Regions from separate parts of the Homo sapiens genome. Here region 2 is linked to region 1. Evidence: fine-mapped expression QTL. Tissue or cell type: whole blood. Region 1 holds a variant in brackets; the other region holds the start of a gene. All regions are shown on one strand. Distances are from middle to middle.

What was found. PIP is the estimated chance that this variant, and not a neighbour inherited with it, causes the effect.
Region 2: it holds the start of CCDC6, and the variant in region 1 is fine-mapped to the expression of CCDC6 in whole blood (INTERVAL, PIP 0.98).

What each region holds. Positions count from the first base shown.
Region 1 is chr10:59,978,495-59,986,494 of GRCh38, reverse strand. No RefSeq gene overlaps it. Among named protein-coding and RNA genes, the nearest start is that of LINC01553, 22 kb to the right of the region's middle. The variant C/G (reference allele first, on the strand shown) is at 4,511.
Region 2 is chr10:59,903,063-59,911,062 of GRCh38, reverse strand. CCDC6 (coiled-coil domain containing 6) reads left to right here and starts at 4,507. Exons shown (of 9, transcript NM_005436.5): 1 at 4,507-4,941. The coding sequence starts at 4,639. RefSeq lists enhancers at 2,079-2,872, 5,565-5,794 and silencers at 3,918-4,212, 4,395-4,734, 4,765-5,044.

The DNA of each region.
Region 1 (8,000 bases):
ACTTCACATGTTTACACTTATTTGTGGGAACTAAAAATTAAAACAATTTAGCTTATGGAGACAGGGAGTAGAAGGATGGTTACCAAAGTCTGGAAGGGTGGGGGCTGGGGGAGTGGGGATGCCTGTGGGTACAAAAAAATAGTTAGAAAGAATGAATAAGATCTAGTATTTGATAGCACAACAGAGTACAGCCAATAATTTAATTGTACATTTTATAATAACTAAAAGAGTAAAACTAGGTTATTTGTAACACAAAAGATAAATGCTTGAGGAAACAAATACCACATTTACCCTAATGTTATCATCATACATTGTATGCCTGTATCAAAATACCCCATATACTCTATAAATATATATACCTAGTTTGTACCCACAAAATTTAAGCACAGAAATATCTTAAAATAAAAATAAATAAAACAGGAGAGAGGCCAACCAAAATGCACAAATAAGCAGATCTGAAAGGTAGATGGAGACAGAGAGAAAAGAAAATTCTGAAGTAATTTGAGTTCTTAGAAGTTAGGTACTTCCTACTTACATAAGTCAGTACAGTCTCTTTATACTTAATATGGTCCAAATTGTGTTTTTTGTTCCCTAAAAACTAAGGATTATGACTAATATGGCATCAATCTCAGATCCACTAGTTTGTGTCCTGACTTGTCTCCTTCCTAGTTACCCAGTAGTCCTTTGTCTGGTTTCCCTGAGTTTTCACCTTTCTGTCTTAGGCCCTGTCTCCCAAGGGTACCCCTAGTAGTAATATCAGCTGGTGTTCCTCAAACTTCTCTCCCTTAAGTTGGCCAATAAGGGGTACATATTATACTCCTGGATGAAGTATCCCTCACTAGTTGTGTGACCTGGGCCCTCATTTTCCTCACAGTGTTGTTGGATATACCTTGAACAGTACTACATATAATTCTGAATATTTCTGAATAGCTTTCAAAAATAGTGGATGTACACTATGAGGGTCACAAAAGCTGAGTTGCAAACATTTGCAGTGCTGGAATAAATGAAGTTGAAAAATGGAATATTTTGTGTAACCAAGAGGCATTTGTTATTTCAGTTTTCTAGTAAAGGCTTATGCCAGTTTTGCAATATCAATGTAGTTTGTGTAGACAGTTGCTAAAAAATCACATGATCTTCTAGGATAAGCATTTTTAATTTTTTTCCATTTCAAAAACAAAAACATTAAAAAATAAAACCATGCTTAATTCTAACACCCTAAAACAAGTATTTCCTTCTAGTTTGCATCAAATGTATTTATTTTTTTCCACAGGTGAATAAGAGTGGTGTAACTTTATATTTCCTTTATTCACTTACATTTAAAAATAGGCTTTGCCAGGGCCGGGCGCAGTGGCTCACTCCTGTAATCCCAGCATTTTGGGAGGCTGAGGCAGGCGGATCACCTGAGGTCGGGAGTTTGAGTTCAGACTTACCAACATGGAAAAACCTTGTCTCTACTAAAAATACAAAATTAGCCAGGTGTGGTGGCACATGCCTATAACCCTAGCTACTCAGGAGGCTGAGGCAGGAGAATCACTTGAACCCGGGAGGTGGAGGTTGCAGTGAGCCGGGATTGCGCCATTGCACTACAGCCTGGGCAACAAAAGCAAAACTCAATCTCAAAAAAAAAAAAAAAAAAAAAAAAAAGGGCTTTGCCCCATGCAGGATCTTTACAATTCAATAGCTAGATATTATTATTTCCAATAGAGATATAATTTATACGACTACATAATTTACACTTTCTGATATTTGGATATTTCAATTTTTTCCAAATATTATAAATGCTCCAATAAAAAGTGGAATTATCAGGTCAAAAATCTGTGAACAGCTCTTGCTATTATGTAAAATTGATTCTCAAATGAGTTTTCCTGAGTCATCCCTACCAGCAGCCAAGTGTGAGTATACATATGTGGATGTTTCACTTTTAATTCAGCAGACCCTGCCTCTGGTATTATCTTTTTTTTTTCTTCCTCTAATGTAACAGGTATAACATGTTACCTTCTCAGTGTGCAACAAATAAATTAGACTCTGAGTTTTGCAAAGAATAATTAAAATCTAAGAAAGACAAAAATAAAAGCTTGCAAGTATAAAAACTTTCTATTTCTAAATCAAGCAATTTAGAACCTTTTCTAAATCAAGAAATTTAGAAATAGAATGATAGATTTAAAAATAGATGAACATTAGTAGTGTATAACTATTTATAATTCTTTTAATTCTTTTCCCTTTTTCAGATCTGTAACGTACAGAGGAGAATGTAATCTTGCATGCACATGTTAACCTACTGTTAACAATTCTGGTTTCAGAGTACTAAAACAAGACTGCAAATGTGTCCTTTTATAATTTTTTAAAAGGGGACATACTTTACAAAAGACAAAACTAAGCAGAGGATAAGAGTCAAAGAGTGCAAAACCTAGAGATTTCCTTTGAGAGATTTAACAGAGAAGAGGGATTAAAATTTATGAACCAATTGTCATCCAAAAATATCCTATCAGTTTCTCTACTCTGAATGCATCTACTTTCCCTGTTCCAAGTTTTAACCTTTCTTTAAAAGAAGTATTGAAGCTCTAAAGCTCCAGGGTGCTGTATTTAGAAGGCAGTAACAGACTAAGCTGGGCTGTTAGGAGCCCACATGAGGAGGCCTTGATATGGGTTCTGGAACACTCTTCATTTTGACTTTGGGATTCTGCTGACAGTGAGTAGCAGCTCTGGGCTAGACTTAAGACAATGAAGACTGACAATGACAGACAAATTTAAAGAGTTGTGGTCAGACTGTGGAGACTAACAGTCCTAAAATAGGTTGCATACTAACTTAATAGACTGTTTTCAACTCCTAGCTCATGTATCAGAGAAATGTATGGACTCCATAAAAATAATGGAATGGTGGCACATACCTAGTGATATAGTGATCATATTCCAAATGCCATACATACCCTAAACTCCTGAATTCAAACTAGTCACCCAAAAGTTTTTGTCTTTAAATACATATAACAACAATAACAAGGGGGAGAAAGTCCTGTTTCTAGTCCAAAACATTGTAAAGCTCAGATTATTAAGAGGTCATGTAAGCGATGTGCTTAGTGTATTCAAATCTTCATTCATTCAACAAGCTGAGCACCTACTAGGTGCTACAAATTCAGTGTTGAATAAAGACAAATCTTTGTCCTCTGAAAACACATTTTCAGAAGTGGAATAAGGGAACAGCAGGGCTCAGTGATGCATGCCTGTAATCCCAACACTTTGGGAAGCCGAGGCAGGATGATCTCTGGAGCCCAGGAGTTTAACACCAGCCTGGGTAACATAGTGAGACCCCATCTATACCAAAAAAATTAAAAATTAGCCTGGCGTAGTGGTGCATGCCTATAACTCCAACTGCTGGGGAGGCCGAGGTGGGAGGATCACTTGAGCCTCGGAGATGGTGGCTGCAGTGAGCCATGATCCCACCATTGCACTCCAACCTAGGCAAGAGAGCGTGACCCTGTCTCAAGAAAAAAAAAAAAATAGTAAGAGGAGAATGAATAATAGAATAAATGAGTATAATAAATTAAACTCATTAGAATATTACATTATGTCTCTGACAGAAGCACACAGGAACCTGAAATGGAGAATAACAAAGTTAAAGATGCAGGGAGGTCCTAAACAAAATATGGTTCTTTGCACTTTATAGCATCTATTGGTTTTAATAGTTCTCTGTTTTTTCCCTTTCTCTACTCCCCACTCTCTTCTTCCTCTGGATTCTACCAGTCTAGAGCTGCTTCAACATCTCCACTCTGCGTGTATACACAACAGGCACATATATGCACACCTCTTTTTTGATGACCCAAAACTTCACTTAATATTAAGAGATAAAAATCTCCTACTTCATGCTGGGTGCAGTGGCTCACACCTGTCACCCCAGCACTTTGGGAGGCCAAGGTGGGCAGATCACCTGAGGTCAGGAGTTCAACACCAGCCTGGCCAACATGGTGAAACACTGTGTCTACCAAAAATACAAAAATTAGCCGGGTGTGGTGGCGGGCAACTGTAATCCCAGCTACTCGGGAGGCTGAGGCAGGAGAATTGCTTGAACCCAGAAGGCGGAGGCTGCAGTGAGCCCAGATCACGCCACTGCACTCCAGCCTGGGCAACAGAACGAGACTCCATCTCAAAAAAAAAGAAAAGAAAAGAAAAGAAAATCTCCTACTTTAATGCCATAGGTATTCCTAGCAAAGTACAATGAGACTTGGGTACTGAAACTTCAGCTTGACTCCCCCACCCCTGCCCTCCCCTCCACCCCCGCCCCAGGCACCATTTTAATCCCTCATATTGCTTGACTAGAAAACTACTCAGGAAACAGCGCTAGAAATAATAGCAGACTTTTATAGAGGGCAAAACTGAATAACAAAGGAGCAGTAGTTATCAACATGTTTTGAAACCAAGGCACTTTTCTACGTTACTGCCATTTAAACATTTATTTTCCTCCTTTGAAATTGTTATCAGTGTTTGCTATCAGCTGGAACAGTATGGAAGTGACTCT[C/G]CTGAGGTTAGAAACAGTCTAACCCTAGTTCCCAATACAATCTTCACCAATTCAAAAGAAATTAGATAAATCCTACCTTAGAACATGCATCACAGGCCACTTTCTGAAATTATCTGGGGAAAGGTTCAGGCATGCCAGCAATGGGGATCATACCAGGAAAATACATCTCACCTGGGATAGTAGTATGAGGAGGAGGGGCAAGTTCCAGGCTTTGACCCCTATCCACTCCCAGCTGTGTGCTTAATTAAAGTTTGATTTCCAGAATGGCCTCCCTGTCTTAAATGAAAACCAAGCGTCATGACGTAGCTCTACAGCTCTGCCCCAAGGCACAGGTCTTGATTTTTCATTTTGGCAAAACTTCAAATACAATCAAGTCAGGGAGAAAAGTTCCAAAATGCCATAGAACCTTCTTAGATCTTCCTGGTCACAGCTTAAAGAGATACACATGAGGATTGCTTAATTGGAATCACTTGGAATAATTTAACCTGAAAGAAGAAACAAATAGCAGGGTTTGGTTTTGTTTTTAAATAATATGCAGTCATCAGGAAAAAAGCTGAAGTTGAGGTTGATCATATTAATTACCTGGAGTTCTTGTTAAAAGTAAAGAATCATCCAGACCTTAGGCTCTTATTTAATTATACAGAAATGTGAGATTGCATATTGACTTGGTTTGGTTTTTTGGTGGGTTTTTTGGGTTTTTGGTTTTTAGCATTGACTTTTGGGGAAAAAAAAGTGCAAAGTTAAGAACCGTAGCAAATAGCATGGTTGCATCTTTATCATGAACACATAATAGTTATACATTTTTATGGGGCACATGTGATATTATGATACAAGCAAACAATGTGTAATGATCAAATCAGGGTAATTGAGATATCCATCACCTCAAGCATCTATCATTTCTTTGTTTTATTTCAAGTGTGTCTCTGATTTGTAAATATGCATACAAAAAAGTGGAATATATACAGAAATATCAGTAGTGATTATTTCTATGTGGCAAGATTCCATCTGAATTTAGTGTTTTTCTTTTCTCTGTTTTTAAATGTTTCCAGACAATACAGGCACCATATTTTTAAAAGTTATTTACCATTTAAACTTTTCAAAAGACATCAGTTATCTGCTAATCTTCTGAAGAAAGCATAACTGGAAAACACATTTTTCTAATGGTAGCAAGACTTAGCTTAGGGGTTAAAAGAGATGGTTTCCCAACTCAACTCAGAAGCATCCATTTTCAAAATTCTCTTAATAGAAAATGAGTGAAAGATGTATCATATCCATACCACATGTGTCCTAACCTATCCCTGAATATAAATTTGTAGAGCCAATTGCCTACTCAACATCTCCAACTGGATGTCTCAAAAATTTCCCAAAGTTAATATATCCCAAACTGAAATCTTTATTCACTTCCTCTATCTCAATTCCCCTCCACAACCTCCTTTTCCTCATTTGGCCAGCCAATAATTTAAGAAGTACTTTTGACGCTTCCCTTTTTCTCAAAGCTCATATCCAAATTGTCAACAAGTCTACTTTTTTCTATCTTAAAATAAATCCTCAGAGTTTCAGTCAGCCCTAAAATACAGCTTCTATCTACACAGCTTAGTGCACTTTGTGCTACTGTAACAGAATATCTAAGACTGGGTAACATATAACGAAAAGAATTATTCTTTAGAATAATAAAAAATAGAATTTATTTTTTCACAGTTATGAAGGCTGAGAAGTCCAAGATCAAGGCACTAGCCTCTAGGGAGGGTCTTCTTGCTGCATACTCACATAACAGAAGATGGAAGGGCAAAAGAGAAGGAACTCCCTTAACATCAAGTCCTTTTATAAAATGGCACAAAATTGCATTTAGGAGGGAGGGGCCCTCATGGCCTAATCACCTCTTAAAGGCCTCACTTCTTTTTTTTTTTTTTAATGGGGTCTTGCTCTGTTGCCCAGACTGGAGTGCAGTGGTGCGATCTCAGCTCACTGCAACCTCTGCCTCCCTGGTTCAAGGGATTCTCTGCCTCAGCCTCCCGAGTAGCTGGGATTACAGGCACCCACCACCATGCCCGGCTAATTTTTTGTATTTTCAGTACAGATGGGGTTTCACCATCTTGGCCAGGCTGGGCTTGAACTCCTTACCTCGTGATCCACCTGCCTCGGCCTCCCAAAGTGCTGGGATTACAGATGTGAGCCACCGTGCCCGGCCAGGCCCCACCTCTTAATATTACCACATTGGCAGCACCTGAACTTTGGCGGGGGGACACACTCAAACTATAATAAACCTAACAGGTGGAAGAAGTGTAAATAAAGTCTCACATGACCCATGCCTTCAACTGTAACAACTTCAAATTACTTGTAAGATATAAACATAAAATTACAATAGCATTTCCATTGCTGCTACAACCCTATGAATACAGAAAGTTAGGGGAGTTAAAATTCTATGTGGAAAAGAGAAGAGAAAAGGAAAGAAGTGAGATTACTACTTAGAACACAGAGAAAATCACCCTCAGACAGAGACACTCTGAAACTGAGTGCTAAAATACTGAAAACAAATCTGGGACTTAGTAGTACACAGCACTACCTACAGGAAAGGGCTTGAAAGTGAGATATCAAGCTGGGTGCAGTGGCTCATGCCTGTAAATCCCAGCAATTTGGGAGGCTGAGGTGGGCGGATAACCTGAAATCAGGAGTTTGAGACCAACCTGGCTAACACGGTGAAGCCCCGTCTCTACTAAAAATACAAAAAATTAGCTGGGCATGGTGGCAGCCGCCTGTAATCCTAGCTACTTGGGAGCCTGAAGCAGGAGAATTGCTGGAACCTGGGAGGTAGAGGTTGCAGTGAGCCAAGATCACGCCACTGCACTCCAGACTGGGAGACAAGAGCGAAACTCCCTCTGAAAAAATAAATAAATAAAGTGAGATATCAGACATGTCAGCCTAGAGGAATTACTGCTTCTAGGGGAAAGGAAGATTAATATATAGAAGTAGTGATGCCCCTCAGATGTCTGCCACAGAGAGAAAAAAGAAAGTAAGAAGAAAAATTAAGGATCCTATGAAAACAGAAGAGAATTACAAGACATGCCAACTCTTCTCCCCTCCTCCATGACATCACCACTAAGACATTTTATTAAAGAAATTACATTTCACTATGCTGTCTGAACTAAGCACTCATAAATTAGAAACCCTATCAACAAATGCCTAGACTTAAAAAATAATCAGACCAATGCTATATGAAGCTACCATAAGAAGATGAAAGAAACTGAGAAGCTGAACATTTCAGCTAATGAAATGTACTTACCCAAACCTAACCCTGAAGCAAAATCAAAGTGTAACACAACATTGCAAATTGAATATATCCTCAAACAAGTATTTGAAGATAAAGAAACCAATTAAAATCGGCCAGGCATGGTGGCTCATGCCTGTAATCCCAGCACTTTGGGAGGCCGAGGGAGGGGGATCACGAGGTCAGGAATTCGAGACTGGCCTGACCAACATGGTGAAACCCTGT
Region 2 (8,000 bases), 75 kb after region 1:
CAAAGTTTTAGATGTTACTGGCTGCCAAAGCTCCAGACACATAAATCATATGTGTTTTGTTTTTTTTTTTTTCGAGACTGAATTTCACATTTGTTGCCCAGGCTGGAGTGCAGTGACGTGTTCTCGGCTCACTGCAACCTCCACCTCCTGGGTTCAAGCAATTGTCCTGCCTCAGCCTCCCGAGTAGCTGGGATTACAGGCATGTGCCACCATGCCCAGCTAATTTTGTATTTTTAGTAGAGATGGGGTTTCACCATGTTGGTCAGGCTGGTCTCAAACTCCTGACCTCAGGTGATCCGCCTGCTTCAGCCTCCCAAATTGCTGGGATTACAGGCATGAGCCACTGCCCCCAGCCTGATATTCTTACTTCTCAAATGATTTACTTTAGCTGATGACTTATTTCTTTAGACTGTCATCTGTATTAATGGCTTTGGTTCCTGTGAAGCAATAATGAGTGAATAAAAACAGGAGCATAGGGATGAGATATGTAATTAATCTTGTAGTCATGATCTCTTGACAAGTTGAGATGTTGCATGTGCAAGGCTAGTTTAATGTTAAAAAGTGTAAAATATTGAAAAAACATGTTGTAGAAATAGAGTGGCTGGGCCGGGCATGGTGGCTCATGCCTGTAATCCCCCTACTTTGGGAGGCTGAGGTGGGTGGATCACCTGAGGTCAGGAGTTTCAGACAAGCCTGGCCAACATGGTGAAACCTGGTCTCTACTGAAAATACAAAAAACTAGCTGGGTGTGGTGGCTGGTGCCTGTAGTCCCAGCTACTCGGGAGGCTGAGGCAGGAGAATCGCTTGAACCCAGGAGGTGGAGGTTGCAGTGAGCAGAGATTGTGCCATTGCACTCCAGCCTGGGTGATAGAGCGAAATTTGGTCTTCAAAAAGAAAAAAGAAAAAAAAAAAAAAGAAATAGAGTGGCTAAAGACAGCAATAGTATAAAGTGTGGATATGGTTGTTTGGGCCCAGGATCTCTTGTCTAATTGACACTGAGAAGATAAAATGAGAAGGAAATTCTGTTGGTGACTCAGTGGTATCTAATCAGTGTGTAACCACTCCAAAATGGGGCTGTCTTTTGTTTTACTAGTTCAGTGGTTCCAAACTGGAGGTAATTTTGCTGCCCAGGGGATATTTGGCAATGTCTGAAGACATTTTTTGGCTGGCATACTACTGGAATCTACTAGGTAAAGGCTAGGGAGGCTGCTAAACATCCTACAATGCACAGGACAGCTCCCTACAACAAAAAATTACCCAGTCTCAAATGTCAGTGTTCAGAAATGCCTTGCTAGACCTAGACAAAGCTTCTAAATTAAAGGTGTAATTAGATAAAGAAACTATCAACTACTTTTCAAGAAATGATAGCCCTAGGCTGGGCACAGTGGCTCTCGCCGGTCATCCCAACACTTTGGGAATCCAAGGCAGGAGGATCACTTGAGGCCAGGAGTTCAAAGCCAGGAATTCAAGACGAGACTGGTCAACATAGAGAGACCTAGCCTCTTAAAAAAAAAAAAGAAGGAGGAGAAATGATAGGGCTACATGGACACATTCTTCTATATTTCTATCCAACTTCTGACACTGTGACATCCCGCTCATACTTGGCTCACCCTAATTTTTTTCAAAACTGTAATGGTGGGTCCTGCAACAACTAAATCCATTTAGAATTTGAATAAAATTACTCAGATCTGACATTAATGTAACTGGATATGTACAGCAATTTGTTTATATATATTAAAAATTAACAAAATTGCTCTATGATTTATGCCATTATTATTTTATTTTATTGTTGTAAACACTAAAGTTCCAAGGCCATAGAGTAAGTGATTTGCAAAAATGGCACTAGACAAATAAAAATCTTGATGTTGCGCCTTGCAGTTAGACTACAAGGTATTCTTTTCCTTTGTTCATGTGTTTTTGCAGCTTAAATTGAGGGCAAAGCTAAATTTCATTATTTCTCCAAAGGAGGTGATTACCTAAATCTGTCCCTTCTTCCTCCAGGCAGCACATACTACCATTTGTTCTTGTGATTCATTTCCCCTAGAAAGCTGAGAAGGAATTTTATAATGATATTATTGGTTTTGTAACTGGTGTTTCCATTGTAATGCTATTACGGAACCAGTGTTGTGATAAATGATCTGTTTATAAGGGAAATCACTTTTACAAGAAGTAGAAAATTAGACACGCTTCTGCTTTGCAATAACAATAAAAACCGCGGTGAAAAAATATTCTCCAGTTTATTCCCATCTGTATCAGCAGGGAAGCTTTAGAAGATGGCTTTCTCCCTAAAGTCTTCTAACCACGATTACTACCTACAAGTCCCATGTCAAAATGCAAATTTCCTCCAAATTCCACTGAAGGCCACTACATTCTTAAGCTTAACCATGACTTGGGCCCTTTAAGAAAACCAGGCGCTTCAAACTCCACCCCTCTGCTGACTTGAAGCAGTGTGAGTCCGCCTTTCCAAGGCGGTTAGTTTTGTGGTGACGCTAAGAGAGAGTTAATTTGCCCCCTGCTCTGCCTGGAAGGAATGTTCCTGTTGCAATAAGCTCTAAAAGTGGAAGCTTTAAGATAATATGGAATAGGGAGCAATAGAAACTTGTGAGGTATGGCAGCCAGACCTACTCTTAAGATTCGATCACAGTGCTGAATAAAGGGGAAAGAATGTTGTTAAATCTGTTTCCCCCTGTGGTGCTTCTCCCTGCTAGCTTTACTCTTCCATTTCAACCCTCAAGTGAGCTTTCCAGAATCCGTTTCCAATTTAACTCATTGTCTCATGTACTAGATCCCAAAAAAGTGAGAGAACTAAGTTTCAGTGCAAATTAAACTGGATCACTTGTAACAGAATGATTTAGATTGCCTATATGTTTCTCAAGAGCAAAGCCAAGCATTTCCTCCCTCCTGCTATACAAACAGTGACAGAGTTCAGAAGCCCTCCAGCACTAAGCTAAAAAATACCTGGGAGAAACTGGGGTTTAGTTGCTGTTGGCATTTAAGCTGTTTGCTAAAAGCAGCCATCTTGGTGAAAGATGATGTCATTTGGAACACTTGGTGTTTTCGAGTTTATTCTGAGGTGCCAGTTTCCAAGAGCCATTGAATCACCGTTTAATCATGAGATCAAATTTAGGTTTAAAGATAATGAGGGAGTGGGAATAAGAATCATTCTTCTTTCTTCCTAACACTTTAGAAATCTTTCAGAAAGTTCAACCCAACAGAAAAAAAAATTACACTTTTTTTTCTATTTTCTATTACCATGTGTTTGTTGTAATGTTAACTAAGCGTGGGTAATAAAACTAGTCTGGTCAGTTTCACTTTCCAATTTTTATACATAAGTGAAAGCTGTTTTGTGTCAACAGGGCAAAGTGTTTAGAATCATCTCACCTGCTGGGCCAATTTCCTGCAAGCCTTTCTTTGGGAAGAGGAAGGGGGAATAAAAGTTTTTGATTTTTAATTTCTTAAACTGCAAAGCTAGAACCATGAATTAGACCGCATTACAGTAATTACTGTTTTATTTTTACATGCTAAAGTTTTCTAGGAGTGAGCAAGAGGATAGCAAAGACGGGTGATGTTGCACTCCCACTCAATCATTACTATTTGTATAGCATAATGTTATGTCCGCAGTTACTTTGGAAAATTGGCACTTAAAGAGGTGTTTCAATCTTCTACTAAAAGTGTTTCGCCTTCCTTTTTTTTTTTCTTCATTAGGTAAATGTTACTGTCTTAATCCTACTACGAGACATGTGCTGGAAATGTTTGCAAAATGCAAAGAGAAAAAGAAAAAAACAGTTGCACCTTGTTTAAACAATTGAGCGCAGTGTGGTTTATGAGGTTATTAAAGGAGATGTGTGTCTCTCCTGCAAATTCTTACTTAACAAGGTTAACCTGTGGCTGCTGTTGTTTCATCCTCCTCGGCCTCTTGTAGAGGAACTTTGTTCTCTTAGGTTTATCCAAGCCTTCCTAGTCAAAAACACCTTGCTTTTGAGAATATAAAACTGCGTGTATGTGTGAAACAGATAGAGGGAGACACGCGCACACACAGTCGGCGGAAGATGGGGCCACAACACGGTAGAGGATGGGTGCCGGAGCCCGGCTGACCTTTCCACGTGTCCCCGGCACCTGCGAGGCTGGTGGGGCATCAGGTTTCCTTTTTCTCGGGGCGGGCGCGAGCCCGGAAGAGGCTGGGCGGCCGTGGGCTTAGATCAGGGGGCTCGGAGGCCCTCCCTTGGAACACGTGTGGCTGGCGAGCTGGTGGTGCGGGGGCAGTCCTTGGCTTTCCCGCACCCGCAGTGCCTGCGCGTTCCCAGCCCGCCCGTGGTCACCAGACGGCGGCGGGCGGGTCCCGGAGCTTTCAGCCAGCTTTGCTGGGCGGCCTAGGGAGCGCGCCCAGCCCGGCTGGAGCGAGCCCCAGTGCAATACTGCCCAAGCCCGGGCGGGGTCTCTGTTCTCTGGCAGAGGAGGTCCCTTGGCAGCGGGAAGCGCCCTCTCTTTCTCTCGCCGCCGCTCCGAGTCTGCGCCCTGGTGCCAGGCGCTCAGCTCGGCGCTCCCCTGTGCTCGCCCGGCGCCCACTCATTCGCAGCCCGGCCTTCGTCGCCGCCGCCTCCCTGCTGCTCCTCCTCCTTTCCCCAGCCCGCCGCGGCCATGGCGGACAGCGCCAGCGAGAGCGACACGGACGGGGCGGGGGGCAACAGCAGCAGCTCGGCCGCCATGCAGTCGTCCTGCTCGTCGACCTCGGGCGGCGGCGGTGGCGGCGGGGGAGGCGGCGGCGGTGGGAAGTCGGGGGGCATTGTCATCTCGCCGTTCCGCCTGGAGGAGCTCACCAACCGCCTGGCCTCGCTGCAGCAAGAGAACAAGGTGCTGAAGATAGAGCTGGAGACCTACAAACTGAAGTGCAAGGCACTGCAGGAGGAGAACCGCGACCTGCGCAAAGCCAGCGTGACCATCGTGAGTGCCCCCCGGGGACGCGCCGCAGCGCCGACCTCCGCCCGCCCCGGGAGGGGCTGCACCCGAATCCAGCCACCCCCCAAGTCTTCCCCAGATTCCCGGGGACCCTCTGAGAGCACACTCCCTGCGGGGACCTGCTGGCTTCCGGGAGGAGAGGGAGGTATCCCTTCGGGGCCACGCGGGTCTGTCCTCCTCGGGGGTCTGAGGACCCTTGCGCGGTGCGGGGGAAGGCTACTGTGGCAACCATTCATGGTCCCTTTTAGCCTCTGGAGAGGAGGCCCCTCCGGGGCTGGGCTGGAGGCTGGCGGCGTGGCTGGGGGGCGGGGTAGGACTTTTTTCAGCCCTAGCATGTTTGAGGGGTGCGTCCAGAATCTGGGGAACCCCAGTCCTGGAAGAGGGAGGAAGCTGGGATCTCTTACTGGGTCCTGGCTCGGAGTGTGGGGGTTCGCAGCTGGACTGGGCACTAAGCTGGCATCTGGACTGCGCTAGCTGGATCGCCCGGGGAGGGGGCGGGAGAGAGTGGCCGGGAATCCGGGAAGTGGAGTTTTCTGGCCGGGATCGAGAGGGAAGGGCGGGTACGGCGCTAATGCTCCCACCTCTGTTGGAAGCTCTTTGCTTTGGGTTGGGAGGGTGGACGGTTTACAGCGAGGAGAGTGCAGCATCCACGCCTGGACAGGGCTGGGGCCGAAACCAGGGGAAGGGTAGTGACTGTGACTCCCTGGCTGAGCCAGAGGTACGTGTGTTTGCTTCATTCGTGGAGTGGTTAGAAGTATCTTGCTTCTGAGTCTAGATACTGGAGAACAGGCCATCTGTTCTGTTTCTACCTGTCCCCTGGAGGCTGCCCAGAAACGGGTAAGCTTGGGTCTGTAGGTCTCTCTCCTGGTGTGGCAGGCGTTTAGAAAGGCCCCTATAGCAGTGATGAGGCGAAACGTAACTAGAAAAAGTACACTGTGTACTCTCACCTATCATCCCTGCCAGCTCACCACATCATTAACATGAAGGATCCCCACACAGACAACTGTATTCAAATCAAAAGTTCCCCAGCCAGAAGCAGAGAAGATGATGTCAAGAAATCAAGGGGGATAAATGGCCATAGCTGCTGCAAAATAGCGGATTAGGCTGAACTTTGAAATGAAGAAAAAGGGATGAATTTGGGGATAGAGGGTCACACCTTGGAAATGGAGCAAGTTTAGGATGCCCCTTGTGCCAGGAAATGCCTTCGGTGGAGGAGGCTGTGTATATGTGTGCGCACGCGTGTGTACACCCCCAGTGCTGGCTCATACATGAGAACTAGATGGCATTCTTAATTTGTGTAGAAAGCAAGTTGCAAGTTAAGTGTGATCAGTAGCCTAAATAGCAGTTGATTGTAAAAAGAAACTTTTCATGCTCAAATCCAATTTTGGAGAATGGAATTGGAGCAACTTTCATGTGAGATGGTAAAGTTCTTGAAGTGCCCTTTTGGTAGGAAGGTGGGGGGCGGGGAATTTGCAGAGGCAGCCACTTCCAAGCCTCCTATGCAGCTTTCTTCGCTGACAGAGATGTCTTTGCTGAGTGGGGGTTAAGAAGAGAGGGAAGTTGTTGGAGGCAGTTTAAGGTTTGAGTTAGTAAATGAGAGGGTTAGTCTCTTGGAGACTGTGAGCCATGGAAAGTAGTAAGACTTGCATGAAGCAAAATAGCCTTTTGCATGCAGTGGGCAATTCAGGCTGGTTTTGTTTGGGAGGGAGGAATGAGGGATGCAGAGACTATGAAAGGGTTATCTGTTTGACACTTAGACCGTATTATAACTAGGTTTGTAAATTGTGCTTAAACATGTTGGCTTTGCAGGAACAAATGTGTTCATTCCCGGTGTTTAAGATCAGAGGCCTTCTGAGTACTTGGCTAGAAGAGCGTATAAGGTGGTGGCTTGCTTTCTTAGCACTTACCCTTAACTACACTGACATCCAACCGAATATACTTTGTGAAATGTCGTGTGGTGTTAATGAGTAAAGTTAACATTGTTTTAGATGACACTGCACAAGTACCAGAAGCCTCTCAGTTCTTCTTTAATTTCTGACTAATATATTCAGGGAGACACATAAAAAAGTGCTTGTGGTTCGCCTGGTTTCCTAATACTTGGCAGTTGTTACTAAGGAGCTGAATGATAAATGCAGAAAACAGATTCCTTCAAGATTTTGCAGGTTTTGTTAACTGACCTAGGATCCAGATTCTGTGGTGGTACGTTTGACCTCTCAGGTATGTAATGCGGGAGGAGAAATTTATGTGACTCCATGAAATGGGCCTGTGAATGTAGAGTCCATTGAACAACACTTAAGTAGTTTATGTCAAGGTTAAGCTGTACAATCCCTGACATCGCTGACTTAAGCATTACCCTTGCTAGTGGCAGGCTAGGAAGTTTCTGATAATTAAGTGAAGGCCTTGTTAGATTTTTCACTATTTTAGTTAATTTGAAGGGAAGATGGTACCATAATTCTGGTAATTGCCTTCCTGGCTCTTTTTAGTTCTAATTATGATATTAACGTTCATGTCCTTGGGCACTAAAGGTGATTGTGGCCTTCTTTTTCCTTGAGCAAGTTCAGGAAGACACATTGCCTTTTTGCCACACCCTGGGGAAGAGCCGGGCTCTTTTTTTCCCCCGACTTGTTTTGTTTTTTAATAGACTTTATTTTTTTAGAGCACTTTTATCTTCACGTAACACTGAACATAAAGTACAGAGATTTCCCACGTAACCCCTGCCTTCACACGGGCACAGCCTCCTCCACCATCAACATCTTTCATCATAGTGGTCCATTTGTTATAGTCAGTGAACCTACGTTGATACATCATTATCACCCAAAGTCTAGAGTTTACTTGGTCTTGTATATTCTATGAGTTTAGACAAATGTATAATGACATGTGTCCACCATTATAGTATTACGCAGAGTTTTTCTGCCCTGGAAGTCTTCCACGCTCTGTTCATCTTTCCCTCCCTGCAAACTCCTGGCAACCACTGATTTTTTTTACTCTCTCCTTAGTTTTGCCTTTTCCAGAATGTCATATAGTTGGAATCATACAGTATGCAG